Linked DNA regions of Homo sapiens. The protein of the gene in region 2 interacts with the protein of the main gene of each other region in a biochemical or structural test. Each region holds a gene or a part of one and is shown on either strand. Other genes may lie near its edges.

Region 1 (7,287 bases), on a different chromosome or scaffold from region 2:
AATAGCTTTCCTACATATAAAAAAGTTGTTAAACAACTTGCGGTGGCTCACGCCACAAACCCAGCACTTTGAGACGCCGAGGCAGATGGACGGCTTGAGCCCAGGAGCTCGACACCAGTTCAGGAAACATGGCAAAGCCCTGTCTCCACAAAAAAGTAGCCAGGCATGGTAGTGCCAGCCTGTAGTCCCAGCTACTCGGGAGGTTGGAAGGATCACCGGAGCCCGGCCGTCGAGGCTGCAGTGAGTCGTGATTGTGCCACTGCACTCCAACCTGCATGACAGAGTAAGACCTGTCTCAAAAAACAAAAAACCCCAAAAACCTGGATTAGAGCAAATATGTAACAATATGCAAAACAATTTTACTTTAAGTAAAGCAAAAATGTTATCAATAGCTTCTAATTATGGCAACGCCATCTCTTCTGTTCTTTGAAAACCACAGTCAAAGCAATCGGAATGTTAATAGTTAGCTTTCCGTATCAGCAGGTTCCAAACACTCAAATCCAACCAGCCTGGGGTGGAAAAGACAATATTTGTGGGATGCAGAACCTGGAAATACAAGGAGCTGACTCTTCCCATGAGCGGGTTCTGCAGCAGCGCATACCAAGGGATGACCATACCTTAGCGTTCCCTCCTAAAACTTACAATATCAATGCTTAGCTTTCTTGCCAGTTCCTCATCACTTTTCAGTTGTTCTTCCATCGCTCTTCGCCTTTTTTCTGCCTGTCTTTTTTCCTCTTCTTCCTCCTCTGCCAACAACCTCTGTATGTATTCTTCACTGGCTTTGTTTTCTTCTTCCTCGCTGGCCCGTCGCTCTGCCGCCACCTTAAAAGTGATTAATAAAGAGCAATCCTTCTCTGAACGTTTTGGTATACTTGCAATATTTCATAACAAGAATAGAAAAGTAGAAAAAGAACAAATTGGCAGAAATTTAAATGATCTCAAATGAAGTACAAATCTGGAGAAGTAGATTCCTGCAAGATAGCTGTCCCATCTCAGCCTCCCAAAGCACTGAAATTATAGGTGTGAGCCTCCACACCTAGCCTGAGATGTATTACAAGTGAAAATTATACACAAAATTTTGAAGACTAACAAAAAAAGAGAAAAATCTCTATTTATGTATAACTTCATATGTAATTAAAACATAATGCTTCACTATAAACACTGCTTTTTAGGTACTTTTCCTATTTAGGAACTTCACAGCTAGCCCTTTAACCTTTCCTCATCTAAACTCACACTCTACCACCCTTTTACTTTAAGCTCAAAACTTTGGGGAAATAAAAATATATCCTGGTATGGATTAAATTAGGAAAAAGAAGAATTAAAAAATTTTCTTCATATGTAAATGCTTAGGGAACACTATCACATAAGAGCATTAATTATGTAGAAGTAAATTACAGCAAAAAACAAAGCCCTTATAAAGTACATTAAAATTATCCATATTTTGGCCAGGCACAGTGGCTCACACCTATAATCCCAGCACTTTGGGAGGCCGAGGCGGGCGGATCACAAGGTCAGGAGATCGAGACCATCCTGGTGAACACTGTGAAACCCCATCTCTACTAAAAATACAAAAAAATTAGCCAGGCGTAGTGGCGGGCGCCTGTAGTCCCAGCTACTCGGGAGGCTGAGGCAGGAGAATGGCATGAACCCGGGAGGTGGAGGTTGCAGTGAGCCGAGATTGCGCCACTGCACTCCAGCCTGGGTGACAGAGTGAGACTCCATCTCAAAAAAAAAAAATTATCCATATTTCAAGATATACTAGTTATATAAGCACAAAAAACTAAATTAAAATCTGAAACTAAAAACACAGCAGAGAAATATTCCAAAAAAAAAAACTATTTAGCACCTACCTTGCTTATTTCCTCTTCATATTCTCTTCTCAGTTCCCCAGGTTTACTGAGCAGACGAACTGGCTGATAGTCATCAGCTATTTCATATCAAAAAAGAAAATAACATTATAGGCAACACAATTTTATGGTAACTTTGGTCTTCCATTAAAACGAAAAATTAAAATATACAACTATTAATAACTGCAGCAATATCTCCTTTTGGAATTCCATTTTTAACATTTATTTTATTTATTTATTTTAGATTTATTTTATTTATTTTTTTTGAGACAGAGCCTTGCTCTGCTGCCCAGGCTGGAGTGCAGTGGCACAGTCTCGGCTCACTGCAACCTCCACCTCCCAGGTTCAAGCGATTCTCCTGCCTCAGCCTTCTCCTGAGCAGCTGGGATTACAGGCATGCGCCACCACACCCAGCTAATTTTTTATATTTTTGGTAGAGTCAGGGTTTCACCACATTGGCCAGGCTGGTCTCGAGCTCCTGACCTCAAGTGATCCACCCGCCTTGGCCTCCCAAAGTGCTGCGATTACAGGTGTGAGCCACCACGCCCGGCCTGGAATTCCATTTTGTGAGGCCAGAGGTTTAGGGTTTTGGGTTTGAAATGGCATATGAATGCATATACTTAACCCTTCCTCTAAACTCCATTAAAATAACAGTAAAGGAATTTTTAAAAACTGTAATCCTACAACAGCAGAAATTAGCAGAGGAGGTTAACTGATTAAAAAAAAATGTTTTTTTTTTTTGAGACAGAGTCTTGCTCTGTCACCCAGGCTGGAGTGCAGTGGTGCAATCTCAGCTCACTGCAACCTCCGCCTCCCGGGTTCAAACAATTATTGTGCCTCAGTGTCCTGAGTAGCTGGGATCACAGGCATGCCCAACCATGCCCAGCTAATTTTTGTATTTTTAATACAGACCGGTTTTTGCCATGTTGGCCAGGCTGGTTTCGAACTCCTAATGTCGGGCAATCTGCTCACCTCAGCCTCCCAAAGTGCTGGGACTACAGGCGTGAGCCACCGTGCCCGGCTCCAGTTAAAAAATTTTTAACAAATTTCTAGAAAATGGGAAGGCAATGAAATAGAGATAATTGATACAGCAGAAATGAAGGAAAAGAAATCCTTGAAAGGGAAGACTACAGCTGAGGTAGAATTAGAAGGGAATCTGCCTCCTATTTGCCTAGAGAGAGGCTCATAGAGTCCAGAGTGAGTAACCGTGGGACTGAAAACAGAACTCGAGATTTATAAGCTGTTAAATCAGAATCCTCGACTTACCGGCATTTCTCCCTGGATATGGGTGCAGGTGCACACACGCATATTTCTTTAAAGAAACAGATCTAGAGAGAGCCAGAGCAGCTAATGTAATAGGTGGTGACCCAGAGCAAAGTCCTCTGCGATCGGGCAGTTAGGGATGGCAAAGCACAAAGGCCAGGTTTCCATCGGCTTGAACTCAACGTCTGCCCATCACCAATACCCTTCCACATACACAGAGCTTTTCTCCTGGGCCTCATTCTCAAACCTAAAAGCTAATCCAAGGATCGTCAGACATTTGAAATACATCTGCAGGACTAGGGAAACAGTAAGCTATACAAAGAGAAAAAATCATCACCCTGGAGTTGAAAGATAATTCTGGGTCAGAAAATAACCTAAATGTGGGTATGTATCCTCAACAAATCTGATGAGAATTTTATTCTATAAAACAAGACACTGTTTTATAAAGTGTAAAAAGGGAACATCCAAAAAAGAGAACGCATCTGTCTGTTTCAAGGGGCAGCTGCTACTCAACTCCAGCTGACTACGACTACCAGGAAACTCAGGCCTGTCCGTGCCATATTTTTTGCTTTCTCAAGAAAATCCAGAGGCGGCAGGGGTGGATGGTGAGAGATGACTTCATGGGTACAATGTACATTATTTGGGTAGCAGATACCCTAAAGAGCCCTGACTTCGCCACTGTGCAATCTATACATGTAACAAAATTACCCTTGCACCCCATAAATTTATCCAAGTAAAAAGAAAAAAAAAAAGAAAATCCAGCAATCAAGATGTTAATATGAAATCTTCCAACTTAAATAGTGGCATTGGATGGGTCACAAAAAACATGCACACAGGATTCCTATGGCCTGCAGGCCAGCAGTTTGAAAAATCTGCAACAGAGAGACTAAAAAACAGTGATGTAACTCCAAAACAATTAGGGATGCAGTATGCTGAATTCTCATTTATTTTAGTCACTAAGGAGGATCTATTCAAGACAATACAATGGTATACACAGGAGAGACATATATAAGGCTCCTTAAAAAGTAGAAGGATAATCAGCTGGCTTAAACTGAGACCTAGATCAGCAAGTCTTAAAGTAGAATCTACGAAACCCTGGAGGTATCTGAGACTTTTTTTCAGGGAAACTGCAGAGTCAAACTATTTTCATTTAAAAAATTAAAGTAAGCTGGGAGCGGTGGCTCACGCCTGTAATCCCAGCACTTTGGGAGGCTGAGGCAGGCGGATCATGAGGTCAGGAGTTCGAGACCAGCCTGGCCAATATGGTGAAACCCCGTCTATACTAAGAATACAAAAATTAGCCAGGCGTGGTGGCACGCACCTGTAGTCTCAGCTACTCGGGAGGCTGAGGCAGTAGAATAGCTTGAACCCGGGAGGCGGAGGCTGCAGTGAGCCGACATTGCACCACTACACTCCAGCCTGGACGACAGAGGGAGATTCCGTCTCAAAACAAACAAACAAAGAAACAAACAAAAAACCCAAATAAAACAACTGACAGTAGGCCGGGCACAGTGGCTCATGCCTGTAATCACAGCATTTTGGGAGGCCGAGGCAGGTGGATCACTTGAGGTCAAGAGTTTGAGACCAGCCTGACCAACACGGTGAAACCCGTCTCTACCAAAAAATACAAAAAGCCGGGAGTGGTGGCAGGCACCTGTAATTCCAACTACTCGAGAGGCTGACACAGAAGAATTGCTTGAACCCGGGAGGCGGAGCTTGCAGTGAGCCGAGATCACGCCACTGCACTCCAGCCTGGGCGACAGAGGGAGGCTCCGTCTCACAAACAAACAAAAACACATGTTCAACATTACTAGTCATTAGGGAAGTGCAAATCCTGAGTACGGAGATACCGCTTCAGAGGACAGCCAACACTTGGTTTTTTTTTTATAATAGTCATCCATTAAGATATATACACACACATAATGGAGTATGCGGCCAAAAAAGGAAATGGAATGGACACGTGCTAGAACACGATGGACCTTCAAGACACTACGCTGCGTGAAACAGCCAGTCACCAAAGGACAGACACTGTGTGGGGTTCCACTCGTACGAGACACCTAGAGCAATTAAACCCGTAGAGGCAGAAAGAATGGAGGTCGCCAGCAGCCAGGGGAGGGGTGAATGGGGAATTAATTATTGTTTAATGGGCAGTTTCAAGCGTGGAAGATGAGAAAGTTCAGAGATGAATGGTGGTGACGGCTGCACAAAAACATGAATGTACTTCATGTCACGCAACTGTCCATTTAAAAATGGTTAACATGGCGGATTTTATGTTATGTATCTTTTACAATAAAACTGGAAAAAAAGTAAATCACTTTACACATTAGATACAATAAAATAGTAGCTAAGAGGCTGGGCACAGTGGCTCATGCCTGTAATCCCAGCACTTTGGAAGGCTGAGGCAGGAGGACCACTTGAGCTCAGGCTATCAAGACCAGCCTGGGCAACATAGCAAGACCCCATCTTTGTTCAAAAAAATTTTTTTTAAGTAGCTAATTTAGGAAAACAATAATAAGACAGATGTATTATACTAGAAAGCAAAACATATCATTAAGCAGAATTAAACTAAGCATGTGTGGTACTGACACAGCTACTGATAAAGAGATAGTTAAAAAATAAAAAGCCCAGGCAAGGTGCCATGGCTCATGCCTGTAATCCCGGCACTTTGGGAGGTGGAGGCAGGCGGATCACTTGAGGTCAGGAGTTCAAAACCAGCCTGGCCAACAAGGCAAATAACCCTATGTCTACTAAAAATACAAAAATTAGCCACGTGTGGTGGTGCACGCCTGTAATCCCAGCTACTCAAGAGGCTGAGACAGGAGAATCGCTTGAACCCGAGAGGCAGAGGTTGCAGTGAGCCAAGATCGCACCATTGCACTCCAGCCTGGGTGACAGAGAGAGACTCCATCTCAAATAAATAAATAAATAAATAAATAAAATAAATAAATAGCCCCAAATTGCTCTGGAAAATAAGCATATGATTAGTGAAATAGTACGTATATCAATGTGGCTGTATTACTACCAAGTAGTGTGGCTATTAAGTGGCAATCAAGGGCAGGGGGAGTTAAGATGCCTACCTCATACAATACTCGAATTCAAGGTGGATTAAAAAATGGAAAAAAACAAAACTATAAACGACTAAGAAGAACATATGAGATAAATTCCAAAACAATTAAAACTTCCATGTGATGAAAGACATCACAAAGTTAAAAACAAACTAGAAGTTATTTGCAAATACATAAATCACCAGAGAATTAGTGTCCAGAATATAACTAGAACTTCCACAGATCAATTAAAAACCACAACAGGCAAAGGAAAGGCACGTGCGATTTACAGAAGATGCCCAACTACAGCAAGCAGAGAGCTGAACTTTTGTTAAACCGTGGAATGACAGATTTTTAAAGTTTACTTATTTCTACATAAACTGAATCTAAATTAAGATCAGTGAGTTATTCAACTGCAGACACAAGTTAAAATTGTCTTCATTTGCCTTTTTCTTTTGTTTTTGGAAACAAGATCTCACTCTTGCCCAGGCTGGAGTTCAGTGGCGGGATCATAGCTCACTGCAGCCTCCAACCCCTTGGCTGAAGCGATTCTCCTGCCCTAGCCTCCTGAAGCACTGGGATAACAGGTGTGAGCCACTGCATCCAGTCCATTTGCTATTTCTTTTTCTTCTTTGACGGAGTTTCGCTCTTGTTGCCCAGGCTGGAGTACAATGGCGCAATCTCAGGTAACTGCAGCCTCCACCTCCCGGGTTCAAGCAATTCTCCTGCCTCAGCCTCCTGAGTAGCTGGGATTACAGGCATGTCCCACCACGCCCAGCTAATTTTTTGTAATTTTAGTAGAGACGGGGGTTTTACCATGTTGGCCAGGCTGGTCTTGAACTCCTGACCTCAGGTGATCCACCTGCCTTCCAAAGTGCCAGGATTACAGGTGTGAGCCACCGTGCCCAGCCTTCCATTTGCTATTTCTTTCTTTTTTTAAATTTATTTTTTTTTTTTTTTGAGACAGAGTCTCACTTTGTCACTCAGGCTGCAGTGCAGTGGTGCAATCTCAGCTCACTGCAGTGTCCACCTCCCAGGCTCAAGCAATGCTACTGCCTGAGCCTCCCATGTAGCTGAGACTACAGGCGCCCACCACCACACCCGGCTAATTTTTGTATTTTTTGTAGACGGTT
Region 2 (5,351 bases):
TTCTAACAATACTCATTTTAAATTTGCTTAACTCGCAAATTTAGTTTTCCTTTTCAAAAACAGTGTACAAATTATTTTGTTCTCCAATTTTAGCAATCAATTTAAGGGGATCTTTGATTAATGTTTGACCAACCCGAATTAAACAAACTAAATTCCTTTAAATAATTATCCTATTCCAAATTAAGTCTTCTTAAAAGGTTTATACCTTTCAGCATCTACTAATCTGGTTCCTTTTAAGTACTGAAACTTTCCTCATGACCTTTAGAATTCCCAGCCAAATAAATTAAATCTTAACACTGGTGGAGCTCACATTGTTAAAACTTAGCAATTTAAATAGAAATCCATAGACTTACTCTTCAGAATTAAAGTGCAAACTACTTAGAGATCATAAATACTTTTAATATCAGATAAATCATTAAGAAATTGCATTCTGTACTTGATGACCACACGGGAACCTTGCTAGAGTCAAGAGAACTTGTCACTAGTAATTATGAAGACACCTTTACGGTGAGCGTTATTAAAACCCTACTAGAGGTTTTGGGTGGGACTCAAGAGCAAGGGGTGGCCACCTGTGGACGAGGGTTCCCTGTTGTTAACAGAACACGTTGCCCACCTCGCAAGTATGCAGCCCAATCAGTCCCCAGGGTCTCGGTTCCCGTTGCGCCCTTCCCCATGGCCACTGCGCTCATTCATGAGCCTAGGGTGATCAGGCCTCCGGCCTATAAAGAACTGCAGGATCAGTGCGGCTCTTTTCTCGAGATAGTAGGTGGCTCTGAAAAGAGCCTTTATGTCCATCAAAGGGGCCCCGGGGGCGGCGGGCGGCCTCACTTGCCCTTGGCCTTGTGGTGGCTCTCCGTCTTCTTGGGCAGCAGTACGGCCTGGATGTTGGGCAGGACGCCACCCTGCGCGATGGTCACGCGGCCCAGCAGCTTGTTGAGCTCCTCGTCGTTGCGGATGGCCAGCTGCAGGTGGCGCGGGATGATGCGCGTCTTCTTGTTGTCGCGCGCCGCGTTGCCGGCAAGCTCCAGGATCTCGGCAGTCAAGTACTCGAGCACCGCGGCCAGATAGACCGGGGCGCCGGCGCCCACGCGCTCCGAATAGTTGCCCTTGCGGAGCAACCGGTGCACGCGGCCCACGGGGAACTGCAGCCCCGCGCGCGACGAGCGCGACTTAGCCTTGGCGCGCGCCTTGCCACCCTGCTTACCACGACCGGACATTTCCGAGTCAAGGAAAAAAGACAACGGCAACCGAAAAGCGAGACTAAAAACAAGAGGGCAGTGAAGGCCAGCGAGCCCTTATGTATGGTACAGAGGTAGGCTAGACCGCGGCGTTCGATTGGATGGCTATGGTAGCCAATCAGAAAAAGAACCTGGCACTCCTAATTTGCGTATTCCTTTCCCAGCGATGACGTAGAACAACGTTTGATCCAATCAGAAGTGAGCAAATCCTGAGCCTTCATTTGAATACAAAACGTACAAATAGAGTTACTCCGAGCGCCGCGCGTTTCTGTTTGGAGAGACTCAGCCATCATGCCAGACCCGTCCAAATCGGCTCCTGCGCCCAAGAAGGGTTCTAAAAAGGCTGTCACCAAGGCACAGAAGAAGGACGGCAAGAAGCGCAAGCGCGGCCGCAAGGAGAGCTATTCTATCTACGTGTACAAGGTGCTGAAGCAGGTGCACCCCGACACCGGCATCTCGTCCAAGGCCATGGGCATCATGAACTCCTTCGTCAATGACATCTTCGAGCGCATCGCCAGCGAGGCCTCCCGCCTGGCACACTACAACAAGCGCTCCACCATCACGTCCCGCGAAGTGCAGACGGCCGTTCGCCTGCTGCTGCCCGGCGAGCTGGCCAAGCACGCCGTGTCCGAGGGCACCAAGGCTGTCACCAAGTACACCAGCTCCAAGTGAGGCGTTCCTCGGCGTCCTGAACCCAAAGGCTCTTTTCAGAGCCACCCACACGATCAAGAAAGGGTTTCGAACACGGTGAAGGGTTATGTAACCTAATGTGTCTCCATGCACCCTAGCGGTTGCCGGGTGCGGCCGAATCTGAGCCGTGTGTGTGTGTGTGTGTGTGTGTGTGTGCGCGCGCGCGCCGGCACAGAACGAGAAAAACTGCTCGTTACAGAAATCGGGGTAGAAACTGCTCAGGTGATGTAGCTCAGTAATGTTGGGAGGCGATCAAGGACCCCCTCTCCATCCCCTCCCTCCGCGCAGAGCTATTAACTCACGACGAGATTTCTTTTTTTTTTCTTTCTTTCTTTTTTTTTTTTTTTTTTTCTAGAAGAAGTCTCGCTCTGTCTCTAGGCTGGCGTGCAGTGGCGCAATCTGGGCTCACTGCAACCTCCGCCTCCTGGGTTCAAGCGATTCTCCTGCCTCAGCCTTACGAGTAGCTGGGATTACAGGCACGCCCCACCACGCCTGGCTAATTTTTTGTATTTTTAGTAGAGACGGGGTTTCACCATGTTGGCCAGGATAGTCTCGATCTTCTGACCTGGTGATCCATCCGCCTCTGCCTCCCAAAGTGCTGGGATTACAGGCGTGAACCACCGCACCTGGCCCCAAATGTCTTTTATAAGCAAGTGGTGCATTCCTGGATGTTGAGCGCTTGCGCCCGGTTCAGGACCGGGTCCAAATGAGGTTGGCGTGCGCCGTGCAGGTGAGGAGTGCGGGTCACCTCCCCCCAAAAGACCCTGTGCCAACCTCCCCAACCCTACCCGCCCCCCATGGGCGAGGCCAGACGTGGCGCAAGACCACGGGCTCTGAGGCCATGGGTGTTGTCACTTTCCCCTGGCGGTGGTGCCTGGCTCTGCATTTGCTTAAGACTTTTCCATCCCTGCCTGGACCAGACAGACATGTTTAGATTTAAGCAATGAACATTCCGGGAGGATATTTTCCTGGCAGGATACCGCGATGGCAGGATGTTTGATACCGAATCGAAGCACGGCGTCAAAGCAGCGTCCTGCGCGGGGGAGCCGGATGTAATAAGCGACCCCAGCTGCCGGTAACTTTAACCCTTATGGGAGTGGGGGTGGGGGAAGGGGTTAATTTAGGAGGAAAAGAATTCCCTTTTTCTGAGCAAATGTAGCTGCCTCCCTCTTTAGCCACATTATTTTCTGCGAGGCGTTAGCAACGCAGAATTCCTTTCCTACCCCCTCCAAATTCACGGCATTTATTTGGGGAGTGCCATTTTGGCGCAGGAAAGCTCTTTGGCACGAAGAGTTTTCACTTTGGAAAGGGCATCGTTTACGTTTTCATGACTTGGCTTTTCTTCTTTAGAAAAAGAAGATTTCCAGTAATTGCTTCCTCAAACCGTTGTGAAAATTCGAAGTACTGAGCGTTTGTGTCACCATTTCCAGCAGGGAATAAAAATTCAATAAAGTTAAATGAGAAATAATTTTTTTTTTTTTTGAGACGGAGTCTTGCTCTGTCGCCCAGGCTGGAGTGCAATGGCGCGATCTCTGCTCACTGCAACATCGGCCTCCCGGGTTCAAGCGATTCTCCTGCCTCAGCCTCCCGAGTAGCTGGGACTACAGGCGTGCGCCACCCACGCCCAGCTAATTTTTTTAATTTTTAGTAGAGACGGGGTTTCACCATGTTGGCCAGGATGGTCTCGATCTCTTGACCTCGTGATCCACCCTCCTCGGCCTCCCAAAGTGCTGGGATTACAGGCGTGAGCCACTTCTCCTGGCCGAGAAATAATTTTTAAATAAAATTCAATGAAAAATATTTTTCCCCCAAGTCATTTCTCCAAAGGGAACCCGTCGCGTGCCTGGGATGGGGAAAGAAAGGTCACCGTGAACATCCTCGACCAAAACGGCTTTGTCCCCTATTCCCCACCTTTTTTTTCCTGCGTGATTCCTCTACAAGAATCTTTGAGAACCTCGCATGTTTTAAAGCTATCTAAAATATTTTTATTTTCAATTAAAATAGTTGCAAAGATACAAATACCAACGTGGAACTTTTTAAAAATCAAAATTCTCACATCAGTCTCAAGGTGCCTTTTGGAATATCAATATGATAGTATAATCAATTCATAAAATACATGACCAAATTTTTCTTTGTCAATGCGATGTTTCAGATGATTTTTTTCCTCCTGAATGCCTATTTCCATTCTCCATTTGCCTTACAATTTCACCCTACCATAATATATCTATTGTATGTTTAATAGTGTTTTGTCTATTGTTCTCTGCAAAAAAGTCTACATTGAAATTTAAGCATACCTCTGGGTAGTCTCTCACTGTTAAGAAAAATCATCTCGACAGTACACAATTGTTCAAAACATAAATAATTTGATGTTATCAAACAGATAAACTTTTAGTGAAACTGACTCTTAATGAGCTGGATGGTGCACCCACTCTCTTCTCTCCTCTCCTTTCCACCTCAATGACTGCACACATGCAGTGTTCATATTGTTACAGTGTTAGCACAGCATGGGATCATTTCCATATGGTTACAATGCTAGCAGTGCACGGGGTCATTTCCATTCTGTTTTGTTTTGATATATGCTCCAAAAAAAATTTACAAAAAATACACAGGAATGACAATTTTGTCATAGGCACTTTATTCAATTCTTTGCATCCCTAGTTATAATCCAAATATTAAACAGTGATCCATCATCAAAAGTAAGTGGGACTTGTCAACACCCTTAGTACTGTCAAGAAATATAGGATTTGTATGAAAAGCTGTTGAATCCAGTCCTCTCCACTATGAAACAGGTGCCCAATGACTGGAACATCCAAGCCCTCGGCCTCCTACCAGCATGGATTGGAAGTCAATACCTTAAACATTTGCAGCTGTGAAACTACTCTCACAGACCCATATAGTTCTCCACCTTAATGAACTTAAAACATAGGTTTAATAAAGTGAAACCAGTCTCCAGTAGAGAGAGTGAATGATTGTGTTAGCACAAGGCAACAACACTGGTTAGTGCCAGAGATCAAATCAAGGCACAAGATGAACATTTCATGACATTTTCCAAGTGTAATTCTCTAAGAAGGCATTTTGTGATGGATAATGTCAAACGTCAGTCAATTCATGTCTCAGTCCTTCTGATTCCCCTGGCACAAACTTGAAGTAGAAACAGGCTGTCTTTTCCTGCTACATTAGCACCCCCAGGCCCAGAATGAATGGGATTTGTCCGTCTCTCCTAGGACAGGGATCTGTTAAGGGAGAGGCAAAGAAGGTAAAACAGGATCCTTGCTACTAAGATTTTATAATGGAGAAAATTCAGAGCAATCGTGTCCAGAACCCATTTCTCTAATTATAGTGTTACAACAGAGAAAGACAAATGTTAATGATAAATGAAGGCAGTGCACATCAAATATGTGAGAATCCACAGAGACTAAGGGA

Evidence for each region.
Region 1: the proteins of H2AC25 (region 2) and RNF168 form a complex in vitro, tested with the Homo sapiens proteins (one study listed by IntAct).

What each region holds. Positions count from the first base shown.
Region 1 is NC_000003.12:196,486,757-196,494,043, forward strand, and holds part of RNF168 (E3 ubiquitin-protein ligase RNF168), read right to left. Parts: intron 1,928-7,287; coding exon 1,851-1,927; intron 823-1,850; coding exon 643-822; intron 1-642. UniProt on the Homo sapiens protein: E3 ubiquitin-protein ligase required for accumulation of repair proteins to sites of DNA damage. Acts with UBE2N/UBC13 to amplify the RNF8-dependent histone ubiquitination.
Region 2 is NC_000001.11:228,456,601-228,461,951, forward strand, and holds H2AC25 (histone H2A type 3), read right to left. Parts: upstream 1,274-5,351; 5' UTR 1,218-1,273; coding exon 825-1,217; 3' UTR 764-824; downstream 1-763. Other genes in the region: H2BC26 (histone H2B type 3-B), read left to right, coding at 1,530-1,910. UniProt on the Homo sapiens protein: Core component of nucleosome. Nucleosomes wrap and compact DNA into chromatin, limiting DNA accessibility to the cellular machineries which require DNA as a template.